Linked DNA regions of Homo sapiens: region 1 is linked to region 2. Evidence: fine-mapped expression QTL. Tissue or cell type: whole blood. Region 2 holds a variant in brackets; the other region holds the start of a gene. All regions are shown on one strand. Distances are between the middles of the regions. Region 1 holds the start of LINC01011 (long intergenic non-protein coding RNA 1011). Region 2 has its middle 32 kb from the start of SERPINB9.

The links.
Region 1: it holds the start of LINC01011, and the variant in region 2 is fine-mapped to the expression of LINC01011 in whole blood (TOPMed, PIP above 0.99).

What each region holds. Positions count from the first base shown.
Region 1 is chr6:2,978,778-2,995,682 of GRCh38, forward strand. LINC01011 (long intergenic non-protein coding RNA 1011) reads left to right here and starts at 9,190. Exons shown (of 3, transcript NR_026856.1): 1 at 9,190-9,254; 2 at 10,751-10,956; 3 at 11,092-12,394. NQO2-AS1 (NQO2 antisense RNA 1) reads right to left here. Exons shown (of 2, transcript NR_186367.1): 2 at 10,559-11,234. RefSeq lists enhancers at 9,132-9,941, 9,942-10,751, 10,752-11,561, 11,125-11,284, 11,562-12,369 and 1 more and silencers at 10,135-10,554, 15,136-15,320.
Region 2 is chr6:2,928,278-2,942,167 of GRCh38, forward strand. No RefSeq gene overlaps it. Among named protein-coding and RNA genes, the nearest start is that of SERPINB9, 32 kb to the left of the region's middle. RefSeq lists enhancers at 1-511, 512-1,171. The variant G/T (reference allele first, on the strand shown) is at 8,411.

The sequences.
Region 1 (16,905 bases), 52 kb after region 2:
TAGTTTACTCTATTTGGTTAATTGCATATTTATCATACAACTACAATGCAAACATTGAGATTGGTCCAGAGCTAGAACCCCTGCCCTCCAACAGAGGACATAAGTTCCTAGGCAACTACCTACACCAAATTTGTTTTCCTTATAGATAATGTAAACCAAAAATAAAATTCTAAGTACCCCAGCCAACTGAATGGACCTCTCCACCAAGGGCATTCCAAAGTTAGTGTGAAAAACTAGTTCAGGCCATGATGAAAAGTGAGGACAAACATGCCTCGTTCTCATTACACCCACGTGCCTTTGGAATTCAGGCACAATTCCTCATCTTAACGCAGACATTCTCTTCTATTGATTCCATCTGCATGATAGGAACCTTAGTCTCCGCAACCCCTTATCTTAACCCAGACACCCAGACATTCCCTTCTACTGATTCTAAATCTTTAGATAATAACTTAACCCTTTTCAACTAATTGCCAATTAGAACTTTTTTTTTTTTTTTTTTTTTTTTTTGGAGACAGGGTCTCACTCTCTTGCCCAGGCTGGAGTGCAGTGGCATGATCTTGGCTCGACTTCCCAGACTCAAGCAATCCTACCACCATAGCCTCCCAAGTAGCTGGGACTACAGTCACATGCCACCACGCCAGACTAATTTTTTTATTTTTTGTGGAGACAATGTCCCACTATGTTGCCAGGCTGGTCTTGAACTCCTGGGCTCAACTGATCCTCCTGCCTCTGCCTCCCAATGTGCTGGGATTATAGGTGTGAACCACTATGCCTGGCCAGAAAATTCTTGAATTCACCTATGACCTGGAAGCCCCCACTTCCGGTTGTCTGCCTTTCTGGACCGAAGCTGCATACATTTTACGTGTATTGATTGATGTCTTATGTTTCCCTAAATTGTATAAATCCAAGTTGTAGCCCAGCTACCTTGGGCGCATGTTCTCAGGATTTCCTAGGGTTGAGGATTTCCTGTGTCAGGAGTCATTGGTCACTCATATTTGGCTTAGAATAAATCTTTTCAAATATTTTACAGAGTTTACCTCTTTTCATCAACAATAGTAAACATTGCAATGTTTCCTAGGAACAACAGAAAAATTATCCAAATGATATATAGCAATGCCAATCAGCAATGTTTCTATACTTTTGTCAGAGGCATTTGAACCAGACCTACTCCATCTTGAATATGGGTAGGTCAATTAAGGCTATCCTTTAATAAATATCATGGATCATCAAATATGAGAGCTACGGGACTGCATTCCCAGGAGGTTAGGCATTCTTAGTCACAGGATGAGATAAAAGGTCAGCACAAGATACAGGTCACAAAGACTTTGCTGATAAAACAGCTTGAGGTAAAGAAGCCAGCCAGAACCCACCAAAACCAAGATGATGACCAAAGTGACCTCTGGTCCTCCTCACTGCTCATTATACAGTAATTATAATGCATTAGCATGCTAGAAGACATTCCTGCCAGCACCAGAACAGCTTACAAATGCCATGGCAATGTTAGGGAGTTACCTTATATGCTCTGAAAAGGGGAGGAACCCTCAGTTCTGGGAGTTGTCCACCTCTTTCCCGGAAAACTCATGAATAATGCACTCCTTGTTTAGCATATAATCAAGTGATAACTATAAGTACACTCAGTTGAGTAGCTCTTGCCTCTGCTCTGCCTACAGAGTAGCCACTCTTTTGTTTCTTTACTTCTCTGATAAACTTGCTTTCACTTAACTCTATAGGCTTGCCCCAAATTCTTTCTTGTGAGAGTTCCAAGAACCCTCTCTTGGGGTCTGGATTGGGACCCCTTTCTGGTAACACTTTCTAGCTCTCATATCTGATGGCCTATTTAAAAAAAAAAAATAGTAGCAGCCACTCCCAGTGACTCGCTTGGTAAACCTGATTGGGTCATGGATCACTTCTAAAGGACACCTAGCAGGCAGGCAGCAGAGAACCTGTTACGAGGCCATGAATACAGACAAAATGCATGTAACCTTTCCTGCCAGTGTAAGGAAGTCAAGGAGGAGAGTTTAAAATAAGATGCTGTTCAAAGTGGTGCAAGACACAAGGAACAGAGATCGGATGAGACCACAGGCAATAGGCAAATAAAAGATGCACTCTCTTCCTCTGAGAGGTGGTGACCCACTTTCCTAAGAGAAAAGTGTTTTGAAGACTGACTTCCCAATTTTTTCTGCCCCGGGAAAGCTTCTGGAACAACACTTTAGGGGCTACTGACAGGCTGCTCTGCTTCTCACCAGCCATGAGCATCCAACCCCAAAGCAGTCCCCAGGCTTCTCTGTGTCTCCTCTACAAGGACGGGCTGGGGAAGACCCTAAGCTCCACTCCCTGCACCATCCCTAGCTTATGAGAGCAGCCACCATGCTCCCTGCTCCTGCATTTATTGCAAAGAGCCTAGCTTCCTTCCAGAATTTTCTGGGACTAGAGCAAACAACCTGCCTTATTTTCTGAAATATCATAGTGGAGGGTTGAGAGACACTGGAACTTACTTTTCTGGGTGGTCTCTCCCCAGCTTTCCTTCCAGATTTGCAGGGACTAAGTGCTAGAGCCTTTCTCCTCTTACATATGAGAGTAGACCTCGAATTGAGGTAAAGCCATGGTCCTTCAATCTAGGCCTAATATTGGCTTTGCTCCCTGCTCCCTGGAATTTTGAGGCAAGTCCAGCATGGACTTGCCTCTCCCACTCATACAACTCAAGTAGTTCATTGAGGTGGGTGAAAGACCCAGAAATGTAACCAGGCCACACTCTCCTACACCTGGAATTTGTAAACCCTCCCCACGGCAAATGCATATACTTGAAGTCCCTCCCTCACTAAGTAACGGAGCTGGAAAACCCTATGAGACAAACTAGTGACTAGTTCCCCATAACTTCGTGCACTAATCTTTGTTGCACAAGCATTGTATCAGATCACAGAGAGTTGAGAAATAGAATTGCAGGAAGCATGGTCCTTCCTTTTTCAGGCGCTCAGATGGCTGGGAAAGGCACTGTGCCCACAGAATGGCATGTGCCTGCTCTAACAGGGCATGCACGCACCCATGAGAACAGAAGCCAGGAAGAACGGCTCTGTGAGCCTCAGGATGTGTTCCCTGGGGCCTCAGCTGAGCTCAGTCTCGTAGGAAGAGTAATTTTCCAGAGCTGAGAAAGAACAAACAAGTGACAAAGATTCCTAGCTTGGCCAAACATTAGTCAGGTTTCTTTCTTTTCTTTCTTTCTTTCTTTCTTTCTTTTTCTTTCTTCTTTCTTTCTTTCTTTTTCTTTCTTTCTTTCTTTCTTTCTTTCTTTCTTTCTTTCTTTCTTTCTTTCTTTCTTTTTCTTTCTCTCTCTCTCTGTCTCTCTCTTTCTTTCCTTCTGAGATGGAGTCTCACTCTGTCACTCAGGCTGGAGTACAAGGTTGTGATCTTGGCTCACTGCAATCTCTGCCTCCCAGGTTCAAGCAATTCTCCTGCCTCAGCTTCCCGAGTAGCTGGGATTACAGGCATGCACCACCATGCCTGGCTAATTTTTGTATTTTTGCTAGAAATGGGGTTTCACCATGTTGGCCAGACTGGTCTGGAACTCCTGACTTCAGATGATCCACCCACCTCGGCCTCCCAGAGTGCTGGTGTTGTGAGCCACTGCGCCTGGCCCATTAGTCAGGTTTGTGAAACTTCTATTAGGTCTACCTGTGCACTTCCATGTAAAATCTAGTTTTAGCAAAGAACTCCCCAGTTTCACTGTGCAATCACCCTTGATATCTGATCAGGCACCTCATCCTCCACCGCCTCCCAGGGGCTGTCTGATCACCCTGACCTGCCTTCCGCAAGAATTCTGTGAGGTCGGTTTAGCCAGAATCCCTCTGACCCCTGATGTCTCCTCTTAGTCATTTTCCATCCACTGACCCCACCCTGCTCCTTGGCTATAAATCCCCACTTCCTCAGGCTGTATTTCTGGTTGAGCCCAATCTCTCTCCTGCACTACAAGACTCTGTTACAGCAGTTTCTAACCCTATTGAGTTGGTCCTGAATAAAGACTTCTTTACTATGCTTTAATAAGTATCATGGATCATCAAATCATTTATTTATTTATTTATTACCACCGGCAACAGAAAGGTGCAGTGTGACAGCCCACAGGGGCAAAGGGTGAGTGTGCTTTAAGGGAGGAGAGAAGGGTGTGGGCTGGGGAGAGGCCCCCAGGGAGGTAGGGTAGGGCTGGATGGTGTGTCAGGGATGGGCTGGGAAAGAGTCCTTGTGCCATTCTAGGAAATTTGGGTTTTATCCCTCAGACATTGGGGAACCAGCACAGGATTTTAATGAGAGGAGAGGATTGCTTTCTCTTTTTTCCCTTTCTTGCCCCCTTTTTTCCATCCTTTCTTCTTTTCCTCCTCCCTCCCCCGCCCCAACCCCCGTCTCACTCTGTAGTCCAGGCTGGAGTGCAGTGGTGTGATTATAACTTGCGGCAGCCTCTACCTCCTGGGCTCAAGCAATCCTCCTGCCTTAGCCTCCAGAGCAGGGACTACTGGCATGTGCCACCACACCACACCTTCCTTCTTTTCTTCCTTCCCAACTCCAGCATCAGGCCTTAGGATGGGCAGGGTGCAGAAGACAGTGACAGCAGGGAGCTGTTTAGAAATTGGCCTCAGGAGCCCAGAACACAGGTAATTTGGGCCTTAGCCAGGCACTGGCAATGGTGATGTCTGTGAGGCAGAGAGCTAATTAGGGGGCAGAAATCATAGACTATACTGAACAAGTGGATTTTGAGAGAGAAGGGCAGAGTTACAGTTCCAGATGGTTTGTATTTATTCTAACTCAGAGAACTGGGTACATGAAAGAGTATATAGGGGGAGGAGGATCAGATTTAGGGGTCAGATAATCAGTTTGAGTCAAAAGGGGCTTAGAGTGCTGGTGAACATTTAGGTGAAGATGTCCAGAGGACAGGTAGAAATTACGACAAAGGTAAGAGCTATCGATGCTAAATGAAGCTGGGGGAGAAACTCCTTGATCCAGCAACAAACATTTTAAAAGACAGCTGGAAAAGGAGCACATGGCAAAGAGGACAGAGAAGGAGAAGACAGAAGAAACAGAGAACCAGGTCAGCATCCGCTGCTGGTGCTGAGAGGAAGAGGAGAGTCAGAATTGAAAAGGGCATTTCTCATTCCCAAGTCGTTAGTTACCAAGGGACGATAGATGGGAGGAGCAAAAACTGAGGCAGATCCAGGCCTGGAGACACATGGAGAGAGTTGTCTTAGAATACTCTTTCAAGAAACTTATCTGGGATGAATGAGAAGACGAACTGGAGCTGGAGGTGGGACTGTGTCTTTTGAGATAGGAGCCTTGGCTGTGACCCATACAATGTGTAAGGAGAGGCATCACACCTCTTCCACCCCTACAAGTTGATACTCTCATATTTAAAATCTGAGTTAAGGCCAGGTGCGGTGGCTCATGCCTGTAATCCCAGCATTTTTGGAGGCCGAGGCAGGCGGATCACTTGCAGTCAGGAGTTTGAGACCAGCCTGGTCAACATGATGAAACCCTGTCTCCACTAAAAATACAAAAAAAAGTTAGCCAGGCATGGTGGTGTGTGCCTGTAATCCCAGCTACTCAGGAGGCTGAGGCAGGAGAATTGTTTGAACCTGGGAGGTAGAGGTTGTAGTGAGCCAAGATCACACCACTGCACTCCAGCCCAGGTGACAGAGTGAGACTCCGTTTCAATAAATAATAATAATTAATTAATTAGCCAGGCGTGGTGGCAGGCACCTGTAATCCCAGCTAGTTGGGAGGCTGAGGCAGGAGAATCGCTTTAACCCGGGAAGCTGAGGTTGCAGTGAGCCAAGATTGCGCCATTGCATTCCAGCCTGGGTGTCACAGCGAGACTCCATCTCAAAAATAAATAAATTAATAAATTAAAATAAAATCTGAGTTAAATTTAAATAATTGTGTTGTTCTGGAGATTTTTTAAAAAATATCATCACTGGTCATAAGAATTTGAGGAATAGCTAAATAACAAAACAGAGGTTTCTCTCTCTGTCTCTCTTCCTTTTTCCATAACAAGAGAAGCTCATCTTCTTATCTGGTCTGGAATCACTTGGGTGACATTTCAAAATGCAAATTAAGAGCCAGGTGGGCAGGTCCCCAATGCGTTGGGATGGGCCGCAGCTGACTGGGCAGCCTCCCTTGAGCTCCCAGGACTTTGCCGAAGGGAGTGGCGTCCATTTGCATGAGGAGCTCAGGAAAACTGCTCCTCAGGTGCCGAGTTAGAGACACCTAGTGAGCTTCACCAGAGTAGTTTTGACCAGGGATACAACAAAGCTCCTAAAACTGAAAAAGCACGAAAACAAAAATGGTTGTGAACAGGGCTCAGCGATGACGAGGCTACATTCAGCCAGTGTGTGTCTGGTGCCATGGTAGACACACCCCTGGGATCCTGCCGCCCTGGCACAGGGGGTGCTCTGGGAGACAGAGGCTGGAATTGGACTGCATTGCAGCCAGGTGGCCTTGGAGACCCAGAAGGGTGCCTCCTTGGGCAAACTTAATGTTCCCCCTAAAGAGATCCCTTTGAAGATCCGCATGGCTTTCACACAAAGGGCGTGGGGTTTAGTTCCAAAACGTAGGCTTGGGTATTATAGAATAAAAGCAAAAGAGGGCACAAGATGTGCATTTTCATTATGTTTACTTAGTGAAGGGTGGGCAGACATTTTCATTATTTTTGGGTTTTTTGTTTGTTTGTTTTTGAGACAGAGTCTTGCTCTGTAGCCCAGGCTGGAGTGCAGTGGCAAGATCTTAGCTCACTGCAACCTCCGCCTCCTGGGTTCAAGTGATTCTCCTGTGTCAGCCTCCTGAGTAGCTGCGATTACAGGCACCCATCACCACGCCTGGCTAATTTTTGTATTTTTAATAGAGACGGGGTCTCACCATGTTGGCCAGGCTGGTATCAAACTCCTGATCTCAGGTGATCCACCTGCCTCAGCCTCCCAAAGTGCTGGGATTACAGGCATGAGCCACCGCGCCCGGCCCATTTTCATTATTTTTAAACAAAGGCGAGCAATTCACTTTCTGGGTGCCCACCTGAAGTAGAGAATCCCAACCCCTTACCATGAAAACAGATAATCTGTTCACTGAGCCCCAAGGACAAAGCAGCCAGGGTCGACTGAGGGGCTACTGCAGCCTTCCTCTCTGACTCCTCCCACCTAACCATTCCCTCAATACCTCAATACACACACTCCTTTCTTTCCCAAGTCTATTGCCTCTTCCAAAAGCAATGTAAGATCCGCCCCAGAACAGTGGGGAGTTCTTATCCTTTCCGTTACCTAAGCAACCTGAGGGCAAAGACCTTTAGATCACCGGCAGTGCTGTTCTTTGGGTAACTTGATCTTTGCTTATCAGCTTTAATAACTTTATTATACGAAATACCCAGCCTTGATGAAGTATCGATGACTCACTAACTGTGGTGTAACTAATTGTTTCATTCATTCTACAAACTTTTTTTTTTTTTTTTGAGACAGAGTCTCACTCTGTTGCACAGGCTGGAGTGCAGTGGCGCGATCTCAGCTTACTGCAACTTCCACCTCCTAGGTTTGAGCGATTCTCCTGCCTCAGCCTCCTGAGTAGCTGGGATTACAGGCGCGTGCCACCACACCCGGCTATTTTTTGTATTTTTAGTAGAGACGAGGTTTCACCATGTTGGTCAGGCTGGTCTCAAACTCCTGACCTCGTGATCTGCCCACCTTGGCCTCACAAAGTGCTGGGATTACCGGCATGAGCCACCGCGCCTGGCCTCATTCTACAAACTTTTATTCTGCACTCACTATAGGCTGGGAGCTACACTAGGGCCTGGGGACATGAAGACAGGCGACACGGTCCCTGGGCTCAAGATGCCAGACAGATGTGCAAACAAGTGAAATCTGATGTGATATGTGCTTTAGTGGTGCCAAGGATAAAAGGATAAGTGTTAAGAAAAAGTAGCAACAATATGTCTGACTGGGAGAATCAAGAAAGGTGTCATAGAGTCCCTAACACTTGAGCTGAGAATGAGAAAGAGCATGAGCTGGCCAGGTGACACACAGAGCATATTCCAACCTAGGAGACTGGGAAATGGGCCAAAATATATACGTTTGAGGAAACAAATAGCTTACTATATAATTAAATATGAGGCAGTTTAGACTGGGCCCTTATGGATAAGTCACACCCATAAATTTTATTTCATCTTACAGGCAGTGGAGAGCCTCTGGAGGATTCTGAGCTTCGTGGTCTCATCATCAGAGTTATGTATGGCAACCATCCCAACCTTTTTGGCACCAGGGAGGGGTTTTGTGGAAAACTATTTTTCCTTGGACAGCAGAGGATGGTTTCGGGATGATTCAAGCACATGACACTTCTTGTGCACTTTATTTTCAGTGGGAGCCCTGAGCTTGTTTTCCTGCAACTATCTGGCCCCATGTGGGGGTGATGAAGACAACGGCAGATTATCAGGCATTAGATTCTCATAAGGAGCGCACATCCTAGATCCCTTATGTGTGCAGTTCACAGTAGGGTTTGTGCTCCTATAAGAATCTAATGCTGCCTGATCTGATAGGAGGCAGAGCTCTGGTGGTAATGCAAGCAATGGGGAGCAGCTGCACATACAGATAAAGCTTCACTAGCTCACCCACTGGTGGCTCACCTCTTGCTGTGTGTCCTGGTTCCTAACAGGCTACAGACCAGTCAGGTCTGTGGCCCGGGGGTTGGGAACTCCTGGTGTATGGAAGAGACTACTCTGCAGCAATGTGGACAAATAGGATGAGGGTGAGCTGTCAGGGGAGACAGGCACACATGGCAGAGCTATTTAAAAAGGAGGATAGATGACCAGGCACAGTGGCTCATGCCAGTAATCCCAGCACTTTGGGAGGCAGAGGCAGGCGGATCACGAGGTCAGCAGTTCAAGACCAGCCTGGCCAACATGGCAAAACCTCATCTCTGCTAAAAATACAAAAATTAGCTGGGCGTGGTGACATGCGCCTGTAATCCCAGCTACTCAGGAGGCTGAGGCAGGAGAATCACTTGAACCCGGGAGGCAAAGATTGCAGTGAGCCGAGATCGTGCCATTGCACTCTAGCCTGGGCAACACAGCAAGACTCTGACTGGAAAAAAAAAAAAAAAAAAAGGAGGATAGACAGGGCTTGGGGATTGGTGGATGGGTAGATAAGGAAGGAGGAGTCTAGCATGACTCTCAGACTACTGACTTGGACCAGCAGGGGAATGGCTGTGACAATAAATAAGATTGGGAAAACAAGAAGGTGAGCAAATTTAGAGGAGAAAATGAATTTCATTTTTGGCATGGTGTGGAAGGCTCGGGAGAGAGGTCTAGGCACCAGATGTCAACGTGAGGTGAAATGGATATAGCTGAAGTCAAGGGTGTGGTGAGGTTTTGCAGGGAGAGCAGGGACCTCCAGCAAGGCCAGTGCATAAGGGAGAATAGAGAAAAAAAGAACCAGAAAAAGACAAGGAGAGGCCAGAGAGGTGTGGAAAGAACCAGGGAAGACAGTTATTCACAACAAACAAAAGAGGGCAGAGTTTTAGAGAAGGAACTGAGCAGTTTGGGGCTCCAGGTGGGGCAGGAGTGGGTGGCCACGGTTGAGGGGCAGTGGCCTTCAAATTGGTCTGGGTAGGTTCTAATGGGTCAGATTGGTCAGTCCTTTCCAGGACACTGAAGGCTGCAGAGGTGTGACTGGATGCTGGTGGAGGGATGCATGGCGGGGAAGCTGAGTCAGATCCTGAAATCCTCCAAGCATGCGCCTGAAATGACCAAGGGAAATGAAGGCGGAGGCTGCTGTCGCCTGGTGGCCTGGGAAGGGCCAAGAGCCAGGGAGCTGGAGGGAGGAGAGAACGTGCGACCTCAGCACGGAGCACTGTAGGGGAGGCGGGGCTGGAGGGAGATGGCGCCGCGCTCCCGGATGAACAGAGAAAGCGACAGGGTGAGTCGCAGGGCACAGTGTGGGATGAGTCACCGACAGCAAGGCATGGACTCCGGGAAGAAGGGGAGACGAGCCGGGAAAGACTTGCATCGGGGATGTGAGCTGAGCTGCACCCAGACAAAAGCGGCTCGGGGCTCCTGAAAGCAGCAGGCACCGCCGGTCCTGCCAAGGGGCTACTTCCTGCGCGGAGTAGGAGAGTAGGAGACCCCAGGCCAGTCCCAATCCCCGGCCCGTCCGGGATGAGGGGGGCTGCGGGAGCTGCGGGGGCCTCCTCCAGGGAGGACGGTTGCAGGGTCCCTCGGCCGCCGCCCACTCCCGGGGGCGTTCCTTCCTCCCAGCTGCGCCCGGAGCGCCTGCTGCCTGGCGAGAGCCCGCCCCTCTGCAACCAGCCCGCTGCAGCGGAGGGCGCCTGGGTGCCCTCGGCCGAGCCAGCAGCCCACGGTCGGCGCCGCACTGTCCCCTGGTGGCGGAGCGCTCCCGCGACCCGGCTCGCCACGCCTGGGAGGGGTCCAGGAGGACGCGGCTGGGACCTGGGGGCTCTCAGGGTGGGGCCTTGGGGGATGAGGCTGGGGCCCGCGGGAAACCGGGCTGGGGCGAGGAGGCTCGCAGGACTTCCTGCCACAGAATGTTTCGATGCTTTTTTTAATTCTGCAAATGTAAGCCTTTCCACTTTAAGTCCAAGCTCAGCGCAGAGGACTGTTCTATAATACATACAATTTAGTTTAAAAATGTTGCAAATGTTAACATGTGTCACAAACTCAAGCAATCCAGTATTATAGAAAGCAAAGAATGAAATGTGCTGCTTCTTTCTCCCCCAGACGCCCTTGCATACATTAAGATATGTATATATGGAAATGTTACCGGGAGTCCCGGTTATCCCAAAAAGGGTTGTTTCCTGTTGCGTGGTGAGGCCAATGCACGAAACCGAAAGGGAGTGTGTCAAGCAGTGCAGGCTGTATTCAATGGCTATGGAATTGGAAGATCTGAAATCAACTTAGCTTGTGAGAGCTGGGAAGTTTCAGAGGTAGGGTGTCTTTAATGAAGGGGCTGGGCATTAAGAGCACGGGGGGGAATATTCGTGCTTTCCTTGGGAAAGAACGGAGATTTTTCCCGGAATCAAGAAACCCCTTTTTTTCTGTCCCTTCTTGGTCTCTTCCAGTCGTTGTCATGGCGACATGTTGTTTAGCATGAGAACAGGATGATGATAAAGCCAGAGGCTCTTCAGAGGCGCCATCTTGGATTTCGCCAGCTTCAGCTGGTTTCGTCCTAAGAAGGAACTTCGAAACACAGGCATTCTTTTTCCTGAAAATAAGCAGAGTTACAGCTGAGTAGGAATTTAGCTCTGTCCCATATGCTATCGCATTGGGCAGCAAAAGCAGGGTGGGGTCCAGCGAAATCAGCAGGCACTGCAATGAGTAACATACCCAGCCACGTTTATGCAGCATTTTTACGAAAATGAAACCATACTACCTGTAAAGGAAGATATGCTAACAAACAACAAAACTGGCAGGAACCAAGATTCCTACTGACACTACCCTTAGTTTTAATTTTCCCTGACAACAAATGAGGTTAACAGAGCATAATTATCTACCGTGACCCCTTCAAAAAGACAGGCTGTATACATTTGCACTAAGAGAAGAAATCGTGTAATGTCAGCAAATTTCCCCCACTTAAAGCTTCTCTATTTAAAAAGCTTCACGCACACATGCACGCATATGTCTTCAAGATGACCACAATTTATTTTGCAGTCATTCTTTGCACCAGTTCCCAATTTTTCCCACTAGCTTGCAAGCTCCGTGACTCGAGGAGACCGGGGGATCAGAGTTTGTTTTTGCGGAGAAGTGAGTCCTTTATGCCCCAAATAGTGACTGACATAGAGAAGGTACTCAGTAAACACTTTTTAAAGGAATGCCTGCCTGACTGAAGCTTAATGATGTGAGGCTTCTAGTGGGATACCCTACCTTGTTTTAACCTGAAGTGACTCTTCCTTAGCTAAGAGAGCCAGACGGACTCCATCGTGACTCCTTCACTCGCAGCCCCTTACCCACCCCCTTCCTCAAGGACTTAACTTGTGCAAGCTGACTCCCAGCACATCAAGAATGCAATTAACTGATAAGATACTGTGGCAAGCTATATCCGCAGTTCCCAGGAATTCGCCCGGTTAATAGCACCCAGAGCCCCTGCGTTTGTGTCCGGTTGATAACGCCCAAAGCCCGGCGTCCATCACCTTAGGATAGACTTAAAGCCTCTGCACCTGGAACTGTTTACTTTCCTGTAACCGTTTATCCTTTTAACTTTTTGCCTACTTTACTTCTGTAAGATTGTTTCAACTAGACTCCCCCTCTCCCCTGTCTAAACCAAAGTATAAAAGAAAATCTAGCTCCTTCTTCGGGGCCAAGAGAATTTCGAGCGCTAGCTGTCTCTCGGCTGCCGGCTAATAAAGGACTCCTGAATTCGTCTCAGAGTGTGGCGTTTCTCTGTAACTCGCTCGGTTACAACACTAGGTTAATCTTTTTCCTTTAACTGTTTGTTTAAAATATATTATGTTTAAGACCTTCTAACTGGTCAGCCTCCAAGATAGTATTGTGCTGGGCTTGCTTTATTCTGGTTTGGTTTCCATGATCCCAGTTCATGTGTTACCTGCTTCTCTTTTGAATTCACAATGATACACAACTTTTAATTTGTTAGAACACAAACATAAGGAATTTTTTTTTCCATTTTAATGTGAGATATGACAGAGGCAAATTGTTTCTTAAAGACATAAAATAATTAAAATAATTACATAAATTGTAATAAAATAATTATTACAATGTTCTATCTTTGGCATTAAGGCATAGAACAATTTTTTAATCCTAAACTAGGCTGGGCATGGTGGCTCACTCCTGTAATCCCAGCACTTTGGGAGGCTGAGGCTGGTGGATCACTTGAGGCCAGGAGTTGGAGACCAGCCTGGCCAACATGATGAAACCCTGTCTCTACTAAAAATACAATAAAAAATTTAGCCGGGTGTGATGGCGCTCACCTGTAGTCCCAGCTACTCAGGAAGCTGAGGCACCAGAATCGCTTGAACCCGGGACGCGGAGGTTGCAGTGAGCTGAGATATAGCGCCGCTGCTCTCCAGCCTGGGCAACAGAATGAGACCCTGTCTCAAAGTAAATTAAATAAATAAAATCCTAAACTGTAGGACCAAGATTTGATTCAGAAAAGAGACTTTCTTGTACTAATTTATACACTGTTCATGTCAGATCCAATCTTTCTTTTTATTAGATGAATCTGGAAAAGCAACTTAGAATAATTCAATCAGTCTAAAAGAATAACAGCTGATGAGATGCAGTCAATAAGCAGTTTTGTATTAGTATTTTTATAAGAAATTAGAAAAACATGATTTTGGGGGAGATCTTCTCATAGTTAACAGCACATATAACATATAAGTTAGAAATGTACTCTGCTAGCTCATAAGATTTTAAAGCAGGGATTTTAGTGTCATTAAACTTTTATTTATAATAGTTTTTTTAATACAATTTTTTTTTTTACTTTGGAATAACTTTAGATTCACAGGAAAGTCAGATAATACAGGTAGTTACCATATTCCCCTAACACAGTTTCCCCTAATGGTAACATATCACCATGGTAGTGTTGTGAATTCTTATGTTGGGTTGCCTCCACATCCATTTTGAATATACATTGGACTTTCCCACACCAAAATCAAGGCTCAGTCACCCCGGACAAAGTTGCTGGTTCTCCACCTTCTCCCAGTTCTGTTATGTGGTGGATCCAGATATCTGCCTCATACAACTATCTCCTGTTGACCACTTCTCTATGGCACAGCTAGAACCTATTGGCCACACTGACCCTCACACCCCACCTAGAATGTGCAGATGCGCCACAGGGCCCACCACTCAGTCACTGTGCCACCTCCTGGAACTCATGCCTGCTTGCTGTAAACCCACCGAATAAAACTCCCCATGGGAAACCTGTTTGGATAACACCCTGGACCCAATAAAGGTGTTGGCCCATGGGTTGCTGTCTTGGTCTCTCTGCCTGCACTCCCTGATTTCCATGAAGGTGGCCTCCAAGTATGCCATGTGCCCCAGGATCTGTAAGTAATAAACTATTTCTAGCCTGTGTCTCTCCTAATCGTTGTAGGGGTGCTCCGCATCTTGAAGATCTTAAAGTAAAACAGATACATTTGTGGAAACTAAGGTCCCAACGTTGTACATTACTATTAACTCCAGGCTTCATTTGGGTTTCAGTTTTTTCATTAATATCAGCCTAAGTTTTTAAAAAATAGTCAGCCGAAAAGAAGGATTTAATTTTATGTGGTAATTTCTGCACAAACATAATATTCTTGAGAAACATCTTGTCTATCAATAACATGTTTAACTATATATTATATCAATATGCTCAAGAAATCAGGCCTTGGTAAAGATTTTTCTTTTTTTTTTTTTTTTTTGGGACGGAGTCTCGCTCTGTCGTCCAGGCTGGAGTGCAGTGGCACGATCTCTGCTCACTGCAAGCTCCGCCTCCCGGGTTCAGGCCATTCTCCTGCCTCAGCCTCCCGAATAGCTGGGACTACAGGCACCTGCAACCACGCCCGGCTAATTTTTTGTATTTTTAGTAGAGACAGGGTTTCACCATGTTAGCCAAGATGGTCTCGATCTCCTGACCTCGTGATCCGCCCGCCTTGGCCTCCCAAAGTGCTGGGATTATAGGTGTGAGCCACCGTGCCCGGCCCCAAGATTTGTCTTTACTAAGTAATGCATGTGAAATATAATAACTGACAATGATAATACAGTGACCAGGTAACTCAAAAATTATAAGTCATTCAATTGAATAACATAGTGTTTTTGAAATGTAAAAAGATAAATATAAATAATAAGTCATATTAAGACAAAATTTATTTAACTGATAAAAGTAAAATTTGTTATTCTCTCTAGCTGTATAGATAAGACAGGATCTCTATAGTGCATTATTTCAAGACTTACTTAGTAGGAAAACCAGTAGGTTTGATTTTTTTTTAAATGCCACTTTGGTTTTAAAGCACTCGCTTTGTCCACTAGTTTTCTAGATCTGAGTATTGGCTATTAATGACATATTTCTAAATTATACACATCAATAATGTGACAATAGCTTCAGGTCAGGAACTACTGTGTGATTTAGATGTTTGTTCCTTCCAAACCTCATGTTGAAATTTGTTTCATCTTTTTTCTTGTTTTCATAGATAAGGGCCTCGCTCTGTTACCCAGGCTGGAGTGCTGTGGTGTGTTTGTGACTCACCGTAGCCTTGAACTCCTGGGCTCAAGCAATCCTCCCACCTAAGCCTCTGGAGTAGCTGGGACTACAGGTGAGCACCGCCAAGCCTGACCTCAAGTTGAAATGTGATCACCAATGTTGGAGTGGGGCTTAATGGGTGGTGTTTAGGTTGCAGGGCCAGATCCTTATGAATAGATGAATGCCCTCCCTCAGGGGTGAGTGAGTTCTTCCAGAGCTGGTGGTTAGAAACAATCCTTGACCTCCCTCCTTTCTCTCTTGCTTACTCTCTTGCCATGTAATCTCTGCACACTCCAGTTCTCCTTCACCTTCCTCCATGAGTAGAGGCAGCCTGAGGCCCTCACCAGATGCAGATGCCCAACCTTGAACTTTCCAACCATTCAGAGTCATTAGCCAAATAAACCTTTTATCTTTATAAATTACTCAGCCTCAGGTATTCCTTTATAGCAACACAAAACAGACTAAGACAGGAACCTACACTCCTTAGAAGAAGGCCATATGATATAAGGGTGTTGAGTCTAAGATTTTAGTGTCTACACTTCGTCTTACATTTTCCATTCTTTCCATTTTCACAAGTCCTATGATACAGTTGAAAATCTTTCCTACGCACTAGTAAAGCCATAGGAACTTAAAATTATTAAGTGTCAAGCACATATGAAAATCAGACAATGTGCAAAGAAAAACGGGCTATGTGTTGCATGAGAACGAGGAACTAATGTTCAGTTTAGGGATATGAACTGTTCAGAAACTTGGTCTGATCAAAGTTATGTCAGCCTTAATAGTAATCTGACTGATAAACAACTAATACTTGAAAGACGGTACTGATATGGACTATTTCACCTGGAGATTGTTTACTTGATAACTTTTTTTTCAAGTTCTGCAAGGTGATTTAACATCCAAAAATATATAGTCAATCCTGGGTATTCATGGAGGACTGGGACCAGGACCCCTCAAATATATCAAAATCCACAGATGCTCAAATCCCTGATATAAAATGGCATAGTATTGACACATAACCTTTGCACAGCCTCCCATATACTGTAAATAATCTCTAGATTACATATAGTACCTAATACAATGTAAATGCTATATAAATAGTTGTTACACTGTATTTTTATTTGTATTTTTTTATTGTTGTATTGCTTTTTCTTTCAAATATATTCCATTGGAGGTTGGTTGAATCAGCAGATATGGAACACACAAATACAGGAGGACAACTATATCTAAATCTAGATTAATGTAAGCGGTGAGAAAATATTTTATCTCCGTCTAAGTAGGTCCTACCAGAGGGGAAACTAGACTCACTCAAAGATTGCTTTGATCAATCCACACACAGTTCAGTGATGGACAGAGTGTCAGTATCTGTTATATGTGTCACTATCCCATGCTAGAGGTGTCAATAGATTATGTAACCTTTCTGAGGAATCACAATACAATAATTGATAATAATATTGATCACATAAACATAGACTTCCTTGACACAGGATTGCCACAGACCTTCAATTTGTAAAAAAAAAAAAAATGCAACATCTGTGGAAGTACTATAAAGAGAAGCAGAATAAGGCAGATATGCCTGTATAAGACTAAGGGAGAATCTTAAAAGCTGCAAGAGATGTACAAGGGATCCTCAATAAATCCATACATCTGTGGCCAGTGAATTTTTGACAAGAGTGCCAAGTCCATTCAATGATGAAATAATAGT
Region 2 (13,890 bases):
CTGTCTCCACTTGCCTTGTGATATTCTATTACCGTGTTAAGTACTTGATGTCTGTCACCCACACCTATTCGCACACTCCCTCCCCTTTTGAAAATCCCTAATAAAAACTTGCTGGTTTTTGTGGCTTGTGGGGCATCACGGATCCTACCAACGTGTGATGTCTCCCCCGGACGCCCAGCTTTAAAATTTCTCTCTTTTGTACTCTGTCCTTTTATTTCTCAAGCTGGTCGACGCTTAGGAAAATAGAAAAGAACCTGTGTGATTTTCGGGGCAGGTCCCCCGAAAGATAGGTAATCCAATGAAGGCTTTGAACCAAAATTTTGAGTAAAGCAATTTTCATGGCAGTTTGATTTTTAAATGCCAAAACCTCCTCAGACTTCAAAGAACAGTGGGGGCAAACAGCCCCACAGAAGAACATCACCTGAAACCTGCTAACCAGGCCTAACCCTGCTTAGAACAGCAACGTAAATGCCTGGATACAGGGACCTCCATCCCACTTTCTCAATCAACAGCAAATTCCAGATTCCAAAGAATATTGGGGCTAAACAGTATTACAAAAGAATATCAGTTTATCAGATTCAGGTTTCCCATGACTGTATCGACACACACCAAACAATCCCCAAAACACAATCCAACTGATGCAGCAACAAACAAGCCCCAAGTGTCCAAACTGAAGCAGCTGGACCAGCTGGTGCTTCCTGTCTCCATTGGTTGGGCTTGATCAATATGCAAACAAAAATTCCTTTGGAATTTCTCACTTGAGAGGAGCCAATCCCGCTGTCTGGTGCCCACAAAAGACATTCACTTGGCTGGGCGCGGTGGCTCACGCCTGTAATCCCAGCACTTTGGGAGGCCGAGGCAAGTGGATCACTTGAGGTCAGGAGTTCAAGACCAGCCTGGCCAACAAGACAAAACCCTGTCTCTACTGAAAATACACCACCAGAGCTGGTGCGCACCTGTAGTCCCAGCTGCTTGGGAGGCTGAGGCAGGAGAATTGCTTGAACCTGGGAGGCGGAGGTTGCAGTGATCCGAGATCGCACCACTGTACTCCAGCCTGGGCGACAGAGCAAGACTCCATTAAAAAAAAATAAATTAATTAAAAAAAGACAGTCAATTTCCCGGACACATACACAACACACAATTACACACAAACCCACAAGAGTGTGTGGCCCAGGCTGGACTGCAGTGGTGCGATCATAGTGTTACTAGAAAAAGAGGTCCTGATCCAGACCCCAGGAGAGGGTTCTTGGATCTCATGCAGGAAGAAATTCAAGGCAAGTCTCAGGGTGCAGTGAGAAGACATTGTTTATTGAAAGCTACTCAGATACAGAGTACAGTGTCCTCAGAAAGCAAGAGGAGGAACTCATCTTTAAGTTTTTCTTATGTAGCAGGTCTTGTTTATGTAAAAGCTAAGCTAAGCCACATCTATGTGTGGGTAGGCTGAAGGCATGACAAAATTTATTATTCTGTTGATTTAAAGAAAACTATCCTTGTGTTTTGTTTTTTTGTTTGTTTTTAGTTTTAGTGTGTATGTACGTAAAAGCATAAATACAAGTATCTTGAAAGCAGCCAGGCATGGTGGCTCATGCCTGTAATCCCAGCACTTTGGGAGACCAAGGCAGGCAGATCACAAGGTCAGGAGTTCAAAACCAGCCTGGCCAAGATGGTGAAACCCCGTCTCTACTAAAAAATACAAAAATTAGCCGGGCGTGGTGATGCGCGCCTGTAGTCTCAGCTACTAGGGAGGCTGAGGCAGGAGAATCGCTGAAACCCAGGAGGCAGAGGTTGTAGTGAGCTGAGATCACACCACTTGCACCCCAGCCTGGGCGACAGAGCAAGACTGAGTCTCAAACAATAATTATCTTGAAAGCATATATTGCTATGGGCATTGGGACATCTTGACTTTCTGTTGCTGTAGGACTGTGTCCCTGCAGGTGTCTTTAAGCTGTTTCCTTAAGTGTAAATATCTTATGACCATGGGTGGTGACTGGAAAAGAATGTGCCTCATTAGTCTCAAGATGAAGCTGAACTTAAAATGGCGTTATTCTGGCTCTCCTGGGCTCCCGCTTCCCTAACAATAGCTCGCTTCGGGCTCAAACTCCTGGACTCAAGCAATCCTCCCACCTCAGCCTCCCAAAGCACTGGGATTATATGGGTTGATTTAAATAAAATAAAAACATTGATAAAAGCTTACTAAGCCTTGATGTTTGATTGTCAATCTATGTCTAATTATAATATTTAAGATTTTATATATTTATATTTTTAATTATTTGAAACCAACCAAACCTCTTCTTTTTGGAAGAGTTTTTTGTTTGTTTTTGTTTTTGTTTTGAGATGGAGTCTCGCTCTGTTGCCCAGGCTGGAGTGCAATGGCACGATCTCAGCTCACTGCAACGTCCGCCTCCCAGGTTCAAGCAATTCTCCTGCCTCAGCCTCTCAAGTAGCTGGGATTACAGGCACATGCTGCCACGCTGGGCTAATTTTTTGTATTTTAGTAGAGACGGGGTTTCTCTGTGTTGCCCAGGCTGGTCTCGAACTCCTCAGCTCAGGCAATCTGCCCCCCTCAGACTCCCAAAGTGCTGGGATTACAGGCCTGAGCCACCATGCCCAGCCCTTGGAAGAGTTTTTTAAAGGTTATAAAATTACATTTCCAAGTGTTAAAAATAAGTATATGAGTTTTAACATCATTTTGTAGCAATAACATCATTTAACAAGGGAAAGAAAAACTTTCAAATAGATGTTTTAAAATGATCATTCCACCCTCTTTCAATAAGATGCATCTTTACCTACAAAGGCAATCCATTACAGTTTTTCAAAAATATTTGCTAGGTATTCCACTAATCGCCACTTTTCACAGAACAGGTCATTACATTTGGAATTCTTGCTATTCCAAAAGAAAAAAAAATGTAAATATCAAATTAACCAACCCTCTTTTCAAAGATCATTAGCAAATGAAAGCAGGCCACTGAAGAGAAATGTTGGAGAATGCTTGCTGACCCAGGAATGTGTGGAACCCGGTGGACCTCAATTCGAAAAGCGTCATATTAATTAGTTTGTCGGATTTTTCTGTTTGAAGGAGCTTGTGAGAGAAACATGTGTTTCGGACATGATCCCACCTGGAAGCTGCCATTAGCGTCTCCTTAGTGCCTTGTCGAATGAGAAACCCTATTAATTCCAGGGGTATTACCTGGAAGTATTAAATGACAAGGAGTTGGGTGGCAGTTAGGGAGGCCTGTTTGTCTTCTAAATGTATCCATTCCTTGTTGGGGTGCTCTGACTGCATGCAATGCAGACAGGAAAATTAAATAGGAAATATTAATCCTCATCTCCTCTTGGAATATGGCATGTCAGCAGGATGACCATACAGCATGGCTTGTCTGGGACAGTCCCAGTTATACCTGTTGCCTTGGTGTCCTGCCTGGGTCAGCATTTGTCACAGGCTTTTCATTTTCAATGAAGTGTTGTTAGTAACAGCTACAGGAGGGGGGTTGGCAGGTCTTTACTTTGTACTGTGAGCTCCCACTACACTTACACCTGTCAGGGTCCACTCAGGAGACAAAGCCACATCAGCTATGTGAACAGAGGAGAATATAAAGGATTGTTAGGAAAAGGGGCACAGACGCAGCATGTGAAAAAGGGGCAGCTGTTACCCACAGGCCCAGTGAGAATGGATGAGGAAAGACTAAAGTGTTAGGAGACCTTTACCGCACCCCCACCCCACACACACTTCGGGCTGAAACTCAGATCTTTTTGAAGAGGATGCAGCTGTCACAGAAACATGCAGCTGCTGCTGGCAGAGTGCATGGGTCAGAGTGGGCCACCAGGAGCTGTCTGCCATTGCCAGAGGGTGTGGCAGGCCAGAGCCGTCCGCAGAAGCAAAAGGCCAGGTAGGGACACAGCTGCCTGAGGTTGCAGCTGTTGCGACTGCAGAAATGGCTGTTGCATGGAGAAAACATGAGAATGAGGCTAGAGATGGTCTGTGTGGGCTGCTGGACCCTGCACTGAGTGGTTACAGGAGAACCAGAACTGGGAACGACAGGTGTCTTTCTACCGGGCTTTCCTGGCAGTGTCTCACTGGCACCCTCTAGTGACGAAGCGTAGCATTGTGCCATCTAGGGAAGTGACAGCAACTCCAGGGTTACATGAGAGGAGGCTCTAGAGCCAAGAGACAATCAATTGCTAAGTGACTCAGCAGGTGCAGGATGCTCACTTTAATCTTGGTTAAATCTGACAGGCAACTTGTGAGTCTGATCCTTTCCAGAAGTCTCCCCCTTCAAGGACAGGACATAAGGAACTCACTCACTGATAAAACAACTTAATCCTTGTTCACAAGCAGCTAGGGACAGCTACGTCCTTCTGGACTCTAGTACTGTGGAGATAATTATTTGGGACTGCTTTCCCCTGACAGCCACTGGGTTGTAATGTGGCTCGTGCTGTGGCTTTTGAGAAGCCATCATTTGGCAGTCAGTTGGAAACGTGGAAAAGTATAGTTTAGGTACACAGTTTAAACTATAATTTAGGCATATTTAAATAGAGGCTATATAAAAATAGAGGCATATTTAAATAGAGGAAATAGAGGCTATAAATTATTATAGATATAAGCCCAAACTCTCTTGCTACAGTGGTTTTGTTATTCATTATATAGGAAAATCTACAGCCATTTATTTTATTGTTTGACTATACTTTTTTACTTAATTTTATTATTTTGAGACAGAGTCTCACTGTGTCACTCAGGCTGGAATGCAGTCGCACCATCTCGGCTCACCACAACCTCCGCCTCTCAGGTTCAAGCGATTCTCCTGCCTCAGCTTCCTGAGCACTGGGATTACAGGCGCCCGCCAGCGTAACTGGCTAATTTTTTGTATTTTTAGTAGAGACACAGTTTCGCCATGTTGGCCAGGCTGGTCTCGAGCTCCTGACCTCAGGTGATCCACCTACCTCGGCCTCCCAAAGTGCTGGAATTACAGGCAAGAGCCACCGCACCCAGCCTGTTTGGCTATACTTTAATTTTGCAATAAATCCTTTTAGCAAACAGTGAGCTCAAAAATTAAGTACTGAATTTTCATATCACAAGAGGTGGAATGTTTAGTGTGCACAAAATGTTGCTGCTTACCACTCACCAGTGGCACCATAGTGCTATCTCTGACCATGTAAAAACTATAAGATGCTAATCTATAAGGAAATACTAGCACCTCCTTCAAAAGTTAGAACTTATTTTAAGAAAATTCTGGCCGGGCACGGTGGCTCACCCCTGTAATCCCAGCACCTTGGGAGGCCGAGGCAGGTGGATCACAAGGTCAGGGTTTGAGACCAGCGTGGCCAATATGGTGAAACTCTGTCTCTACTAAAAATACAAAAATTAGCCAGGTGTGGTGGCAGGTGCCTATAGTCTCAGCTACTCTGGAGGCTGAGGCAGGAGAATCGCCTGAACCTGGGAGGCGGAGGTTGCAGTGAGCCAAGATAAACGTCACTGAACTCCAGCCTGGGCGACAGAGTGAGACTCAGTCTCCAAAAAAAAAAAAAAAAAAAGAAAGAAAGAAAGAAAGAAAATTCTGTCCAAAGATAATAATCTATCAAGTGCATTGCAGAGGATATATTTATATATTAGTTTGTAAAGCAGGCTGTTCATTTGATCAAATGACTGCTATTTGAAGTTAATTTCTGTCATTTTCAAAAAGTAAAGCAATACATGGAAGCATTGGCTGCATTAGCAGAAGAAAAACTTTCATTTTGTTCAAGTAAGTTTCATCAGATGTTTCAAATTAAAAAGCAGTGTAAGGTTTTCATCTAATTCATGGATAGAATTAAAAATAAGCTTTTAGAAGTTCCCTTTCCCACAGGGAAAATATATAATATGTTGTGAATAAATGCTGTTAAAAATGTAGTTAAGCCTGGGCAACAGAGTGAGACTCCATCTCAAAAAAAAATTAGTTAAAATGTGCATCAGGGAAGGTTTTCATACAAATCAAATTTGATGAGTCACAACCTTGGAGTTGGTTAAGATGAACACACATTTTGAATTTTATTAATCAAGCCGCAATATTCTTCTGTTCAAAATAGCATCTTGTAGTTATCAAAATGTATGAATTTTCTTTATATAGTTCCTACAGAATATTTGTGATGAAGCTGCTGATGAATACAAATATGATATGATATTGATGATGTATTGATGGCAGTGCCTGCTTTTCATCTTTGCTGCCCATGAGCAATTGAAATGTAGTTGTGTGTGCTCTTTTGGAGAACGATTTTAAATCAGCCGAAATGCTCTGTAATGTTACTAACCTTCTTTGAACTGAGTCCTCTAAATTTCAGGTGCATTTTGTTCAAAATCAGTTAGAAATAGTCAAAATATTCAGAGTGAAGCACCCAAAAATGTAATTTTGGAGGCTTTTAGCTACTTGAAATCATAGAAAACAAAGTTTGCAAACAGGAAGATATTCAAAGTTCTACAAAACCAAAGGAGAAACTAATTAAACAGCATCAGCTTAATAGTGAATAGGACTTAACTTTCTCAAATTCTGTAATTGAATTTTGGCGTATCTTGACTTGGAGGAAGAAACTTTAGATGGACTTCCTATTTTTAATTGGATAAATTTACAGGCTATATTAGAATGCAGTGAAACTGGGATGTCCAAAAAGTTTGCTGCACAAAAATTTGGTGAAAACTTCAAAAGGATTATTTAAGTCAGTCATTTGATAAGCTTTGTCTGATAAAAGTATTTGGAAAAGAAACACATTGTATGCAGGCAAAAAGATTGTAACTGTGGAAATATTCAGACTGAAATACTTGTGCATTTTAATATGAGAAAAATTAGAATTGAGACAGTTCTTCATTTGTTAGAATTTGCTCTGAGCTTACCACGTCTCTCAGCTCCTGAAGAGTGTTTTCTCCATAAAAATTCCTTAGTCTAACAGCAGGAACAGCTACATAATTTGCAGGGCCCATTGCAAAATGAAAATGCAGGATCCTCTGTTCGAAAACTACAAATAATTTCAAACTGATGACAGTAAAACATCCATCCAAGTGTGTATCCCTGTGAATGTGGAGCCCTGCATGCTGCATAGGTCACACAGGACCTATGGTCAACAGACAAGAGTCAATTGACCATGATAGTAATTTTACATTTATTGACAATAAAGTGCAATTTATAAAAATTTTCTTAATAAGATCCTATTGAAAAATACCTTATTGAGGAAAAATACCAGTGATGTTTGATAAGAGGTAGATTCAGTTAAGAAATGAATTACAGTGTATGAATGTGCACCAAGAATAATGTCTTAGTGAGCTTAGGCTCCCATACAAAATACCATAGACCAGGCAGCTCAAACAACAGAAATGTATTTGCTCACAGTTCTGGAGGCCCCAAAGTCGAAGATCAGGATGCCAGTGAGAGGTGACAGCATGCTGGCAGCCCTCGCTTGCTCTCCCTGCCTCCTTGGCCTCGGCGCCCATTCTGGCTACGCTTGAGGAGCCCTTCTCTGGGCTGGCTGAGGCCGGAGCCAGCTCCCTCGGCTTGCGGGGAGGTGTGGAGGGAGAGGCACGGGTGGGAACCGGGGCTGCGCACAGCGCTTGCGGGCCAGCTAGAGTTCCGGGTGGGCGTGGGGTTGGCGGGCCCGCACTCGGAGCCGCCGGCCGGCCCTACCTGCCCCAGGTAGTGAGGGGCTTAGCACCCAGGCCAACAGCTGCGGAGGGTGTGCTGGGTTCCCCAGCACTGCTGGCCCACCGGCGCTGTGCTCGATTTCTCACCGGGCCTTAGCTACCTTCTTGCGGGGTAGGGCTTGGGACCTGCAGCCCACCATGCCTAAGTCTCCCCCGCGTTACCGCCGCCGCCGTGGGCTCCCGCGCAGCCTGAGCCTCCCCAACGAGCACCGCCCCCTGCTCCAGGGCACCCGGTCCCATCAACCGCCCAAGGACTGAGAAGTGCGGGCGCACGGCATGGGATGGGCAGGTAGCTCCACCCACGGCCCCAGTGCGAGATCCACTAGGTGAAGCCAGCTGGGCTGCTGAGTCTATTAGGGACTTGGAAAATCTTTATGTCTAGCTAAGGGATTGTGAATACACCAATCGGCACTCTGTATCTAGCTCAAGTTTTGTAAATGCACCAATCAGCACTCTGTGTCTAGCTGATCTGGTGGAGACTTGGAGAATCTTTCTGTCTAGCTAAGGGATTGTAAATACACCAATCGGCACTCTGTATTCTAGTTAATCTGGGGGGACTTGGAGAATCTTTATGTCTAGCTAAGGGATTGTGAATACACCAATCAGCACTCTTAATCTAACTCGAGGTTTGTAAATGCACCAATCAGCACTCTGTGTCTAGCTGATCTGGTGGGGACTTGGAGAACCTTCATGTCTAGCTAAGGGATTGTGAATACACCAATCGGCACTCTGTATCTAGCTCAAGGTTTG[G/T]AAATGCACCGATCAGTACCCTGTGTCTAGCTCAAGATTTGTAAATGCACCAATCAGTGCTCTGTGTCTAGCTAATCTAGTGGGTACTTGGAAAACTTTTGTGTCTAGCTCAGGGATTGTAAACGCACCAATCAGCACCCTGGCAAAACGGACCAATCAGCTCTCTGTAAAACAGACCAGTCAGCTTTCTGTAAAATGGACCAATCAGCAAGATGTGGGTGGGGCCAGATAAGGGAATAAAAGCAGGCTGTCGGAGTTAGCCGTGGTATGTTTGCTGAGATCTGCTTCAATGTAGTGAAAATGGTTATTCTTCTTGCTTTTTTTTTTTTTTTTCTCTTTTTTTCAGTAAATGTGCTGTTTTTCGGTTTTGTTTCCTGTATGAGCTGTAACATTCTTTGTAAAGCTCTGTGGTTTTGTTTTTGAAGGTATGAAAATAGAACCAACCCATTTGTAGAGTTAAACAACTATCAGGAGCGTATGGCGTTATGTAGTTTATGACACTCACTGAATGTTTTAGAGCTTTACTCTTGAGCCGATGAGATCGCTAAGCCCACCATGAAAGAAGTAAAGGGAGGACATACCGCTTTAAAGAACTTGTAACACCACACGGGTCTGTGGCTTCATTCCCGAAGTCAGTAAGACCAATGAACCCACCAGCACAGTGTTTTTGGTGATGGTTGTTTTTAGCAACCTTAACTGTAAAAATTTCTCGTTTAAAATCATGAATTACGTGTTAAGGTTTCAACGTATGAATTTGTGGAGGGGGCTGGGCACAATTCACTGCATAGCAAATAACTGTACTTTGAGAATAACGTATATTTAAAGTTTAAATTGTGAATTTTAAAAATTCAATTTGATCTTTTCCAAACATTTTTAAAGAACGATTTGACAGTCTTAGGTCCTCTAATAAAAATCACTTGCAGTGAATTTTTAAAAAATGGACAAGTAATAGTTGTGTAGACTTTTGCAATGTTATGTTTTGATACATGCTTACATGGTAGTGAAACTGGGCAAGTTCCCTTGTTCCTCTCGGGATGTGTGATGGGGCTGATGGCTCACTTTAGTGCCCTGCTGCTCCAACTTTTAGGAGAGAATACAGACAGGTAGGCTGTGGGGCTCCAACCCTTTTGCAGTGTCTAGGGCTGAATGTTTACAACTCCTGAAGCTCCACTGGGCATGTGTTAGAGTGCTTTTTTAGTTTAGCTATCCATAGGTGGCTTGTGTTAACCAGTTCAATCAGACCCCTACCTTATCGCAAGGACAGAGGGCTTTCTGTATCCTGGGGTTCCTGCCTTGGTGTACCAGAAGAATCGGATCACATGTGGGCTTGGAGAATGAGTGCAAGGTAAGTCTGGCAACCTGGGCTCTCCTTCAACTGCCCCCGTCAAACTGCGTTGTTCTGCCGGTGGATGGCCTGCCTGCATGCCGGTGCCTGCTGGTGCATCCCATTCCTCTCAACTTCCAGCCGCTCGTGTGTTCCTCCACTGATGTACTCCTCTCGATATGCAGCCACCTGTGTGTCTGCCTGCTAGCGTCTCAGGGTTTTACAGGCACAGGGTAGGGGCGTGGCAGGCCAGGGTGGTCTTGAGAAGTGCAACATTGGGGCAGGAAAACAAAAATGCCTGTCCTCAACTAGGTCCGTGGGCACAGGCCCAGGGTTGGAGCCCTAGCCAGGGACCACGCCCTTCCCCCCCCCGCCATGTTATTTAAAGAGAGCACACCCTTCCATATCAGTGGAATGGCTAAAACAAGCTAATTCCCATACGCATTACCTCATCTATTTTTTTTGTGATGAGAATGTCAGAGTAGGCGGTTAGACGTGAGCAGGGCATGCACGGGCCCCCAAGAATGTTGGACATTTGTCAAGCCACAGTCACAATTATAAATCTGTCCCTCTGAAATAATGAGCAAGACAAGGAAGGGACCCCAGAGCTGTCTGGTTCTCATTGGGACCGGGATTGAAGGGCATAAAACTATCCCTCTAGGGTAATAAGTGGCCATGGCTGGCGCTGGGAATAACAGGAGTCTTGCAACAGACAGAAGACACCTGGAGTTAGCAAGGCAGTCCCAGACAAGGTTTTGAGCATGTGCAGTAATAGAAAGGTGTGAAATTTACCCGGTGTATGACTTTCCTCTAGGGGCGCTCGACCAGTAAGGGAGAATTGCATCTAATGGGCATGCGCACAACTTCAGTAACCATCCAGCGCCTACTGGGAGGGCTACTGGGCATGCAATACTTGAGGGCCAGCCCGGGAGGTGAAGAACAAAGAGTGGAGACAGCCTGGAAAAGAGTAAGGGGTATAAAAACTGTAAGCAGGCCTGGGGTGGTGGCTCACGCCTGTAGTTCCAGCACTTTGGGAGGCTGAGGCAGGTGGATCATGAAGTCAGGAGATCAAGACCATCCTGGTTTACATGGTGAAACCCTGTCTCTACTAAAAATACAAAAAATCAGCCAGGCGTGGTGGCAAGCACCTGTAGTCCCAGCTACTCGGGAGGCTGAGGCAGGAGAATCGCTTGAACCCTGGAGACAAAGGTTGCAGTCAGCTGAGATTGTACCACTGCACTCCAGCCTGGGCAATAGAGCGAGACTCCGTCCAAAAAAAAAAAAAAATCAAAGCGGAAGCAGCACTTGATTTTTGAAGTCTCCTGCTTGACCCTCTTCCAAGCCTACTTTCTCCAATGAACTTTCACATTGCTTAAAATAAATGTTCCCTTGCCTGTCTCTCATTTGAATTCTTTCCTTTTAAAAGTACAAAGTGAGAAGTGACAGCATGCTGGCAGTCCTCACAGCCCTCGGTCGCTCTGGGTGCCTCCTCTGCCTGGGCTCCCACTTTGGCGGCACTTGAGGAGCCCTTCAGCCCGCCGCTGCACTGTTGGAGTCCGTTTCTGGGCTGGCCACGCAAGGCCGGAGCCGGCTTCCTCAGCTTGCAGGGAGGTGTGCAGAGAGAGGCGCCAGCGGGAACTGGGGCTGTGCGCGGCGCTTGCGGGCCAGCTGGAGTTCCGGGTGGGCGTGGGCTTGGCGGGCCCCGCACTCGGAGCAGCCGGCCGGCCATGCCGGCCTCGGGCAATGAGGGGTTTAGCACCCGGGCCAGTGGCTGCAGAGGGTGTACTGGGTTCCCCCATAGTGCCAGCCCACCAGCGCTGCGCCCTATTTCTCACTGGGCCTTAGCTGCCTTCCCGCGGGGCAGGACTTGGGACCTGCAGCCCGCCATGCCCGAGCCTCCCTGATGAACACCACCCCCTACTCCATGGCTCCCAGTCCCATCGACCACCCAAGGGCTGAAGAGTGTGGGCGCATGGCGTGGGAGTGGCAGGCAGCTCCACCTGCAGCCCCAGTACAGGATCCACTGGGTGAAGCCAGCTGGGCTCCTGAGTCTGGTGGGGACCATGGAGAACATTTGTGTCTGGCCCAGCGATTGTAAATACACCAATCGGCACTCTGTATCTAGCTCAAGGTTTGTAAACACACCAATCAGCATCCTGCATCTAGCTCAAGGTTTAGTGAATGCACCAATTGACACTCTATATCTAGCTACTCTGGTGGGGCCTTGGAGAACCTTTATGTCTAGCTCAGGGATTGTAAACGCACCAATCAGCGCCCTGTCAAAACAGACCACTTGGTTCTACCAATCAGCAGGATGTGGGTGGGGCCAGATAAAAGAATAAAAGCAGGCTGCCGGAGCTTGTAGTGGTAACCCGTTGGGGTTTTCTGTGCTGTGATAAGGTTTGTTCGTTTGCATTTGGCGTCTGCGTTGCCTTTATGAGCTGTAGCGCTCACTGCGAAAATTGTCACTTTATTTCTGAAGTGGGTGAGATGACGAGCCCGGCAGGAGGAACGAAACACTCATCTGTGAAAGTTGCAACTTCATTTCTGAAGTAGGTGAGACGACTCTGTGAAAGTTGCAACTTCATTTCTGAAGTGGGTGAGACGACGAGCCCATTAGGAGGAACGGAACACTCACTGCGAAAGTTGCAATTTCATTTCTATAGTGGGTGAGACGACGAGCCCAGTGAGAGTGAACGAACAACTCCAGGCGCGCCGCCTTAAGAGCTATAGTATTCACTGAGGGTTTGCGGTTTTATTCTTGAAGTCAGTGAAACCAAAAACCAATTTCTGGGTGTAAAAAGACCAAGGTTCTTGCAAGGTTGCTCCTCCCAAATTCCTTCAGATAGGGGAAGACACACAGTTTACAAGAACATTTTGAATCTTACTCATTTTCAAGTATATAATATATATTTTTAATTGTAGCCAACATGACTTACAATAAGTAAACTTAAAAAGATATAAGCCACCCATGTTGGGTGTGGGGGTACATGCCAGTAATCCCAGCTGCGTGGGAGGCTGAGGTGGGGTAGATTGCTGGAGTCCAGGAATTTGAGGCCAGCCTGGGCAACATAACACCCCATTTCTGAAAGTAAACAAAGCCCTAATTATGTTCATTTTCCCCCTTCATTTTCAGATTTCCCATTTTGGCCACGCTTCACATGCGACACATATAGAAGTACACAGCAGCTTCCCCCCTTACCTGCAAGGGATATGTTCAGAGATCTCCAGTGGATGCCTGAAACTATGGATAGTACTGAATCCTATATATACTGTTTTTTTCTATACATATAATAAAGTTTATAAATTAGGTACAGTAAGAGATTAAAAACTCAAAATATGAGTTAAACTCATATGCAATATAATATATGCAATAAAATTGAAATACTGTCAAACTCTGTAAAGTATTTGAAGAGATTTGTTCTGAGCCAAATGTGAGTGACCGTGGCCTCTGACACAGCCCCTGGAGATCCTGAGAACACGTGCCCAAGGTGGTGGTGGTCAGGGGGGAGCTTCTGGGTCGCAGGTGGATTCCAAGATTTTCTGGTTGAAAGTTCATCTAAAGACCTGAAATCAATAGAAGGGAGTGTGTGGGTTAAGATAAGGTGTTGTGGAGACCAAGGGTCTTATTCTGCAGATGAAGCGAGCAGGCTTCAGAGAGCATCTATTGTAAATGTCTCTTTTCAGACTCTCCTGGATCAGGAGAAAGACCCGGAAAGGGAAGGAGATTATCTACAAAAATGTAGATTTTCCCCACAAGAGGCAGCTTTGCAGGGCCATTTCAAAATATGTCAAAGAAATATGTTTTGGGGTAAAATACTTCAATTTCTTTCAGGGCCCGTTGTCTGTCATGTTGGTAGCTAATTGCTAGATAGAGTCTGTTTTGTCAGCGTTAAGGTCTGTTTTAATGTAATGCTGGTCAGCTGTGCCTGAATTCCAACGGGAGGAAGGTAGAATGAGGCATGTCTGAGCCCCTCCTCCCTATTTCACATCGTGGCCTGAACTAGTGTTTCAGGTTTACTTTCGAATGCCTTTGGCTGAGAGGAGGGGTCCATTTGGTTGGGGGGCTTAGAATTTTATTTTTGGGCCAGGCTTGGTGGTTCATGCCTATAATCCCAGCGCTTTGGGACGCTGAGGCGGGCGGATCACCTGAGGT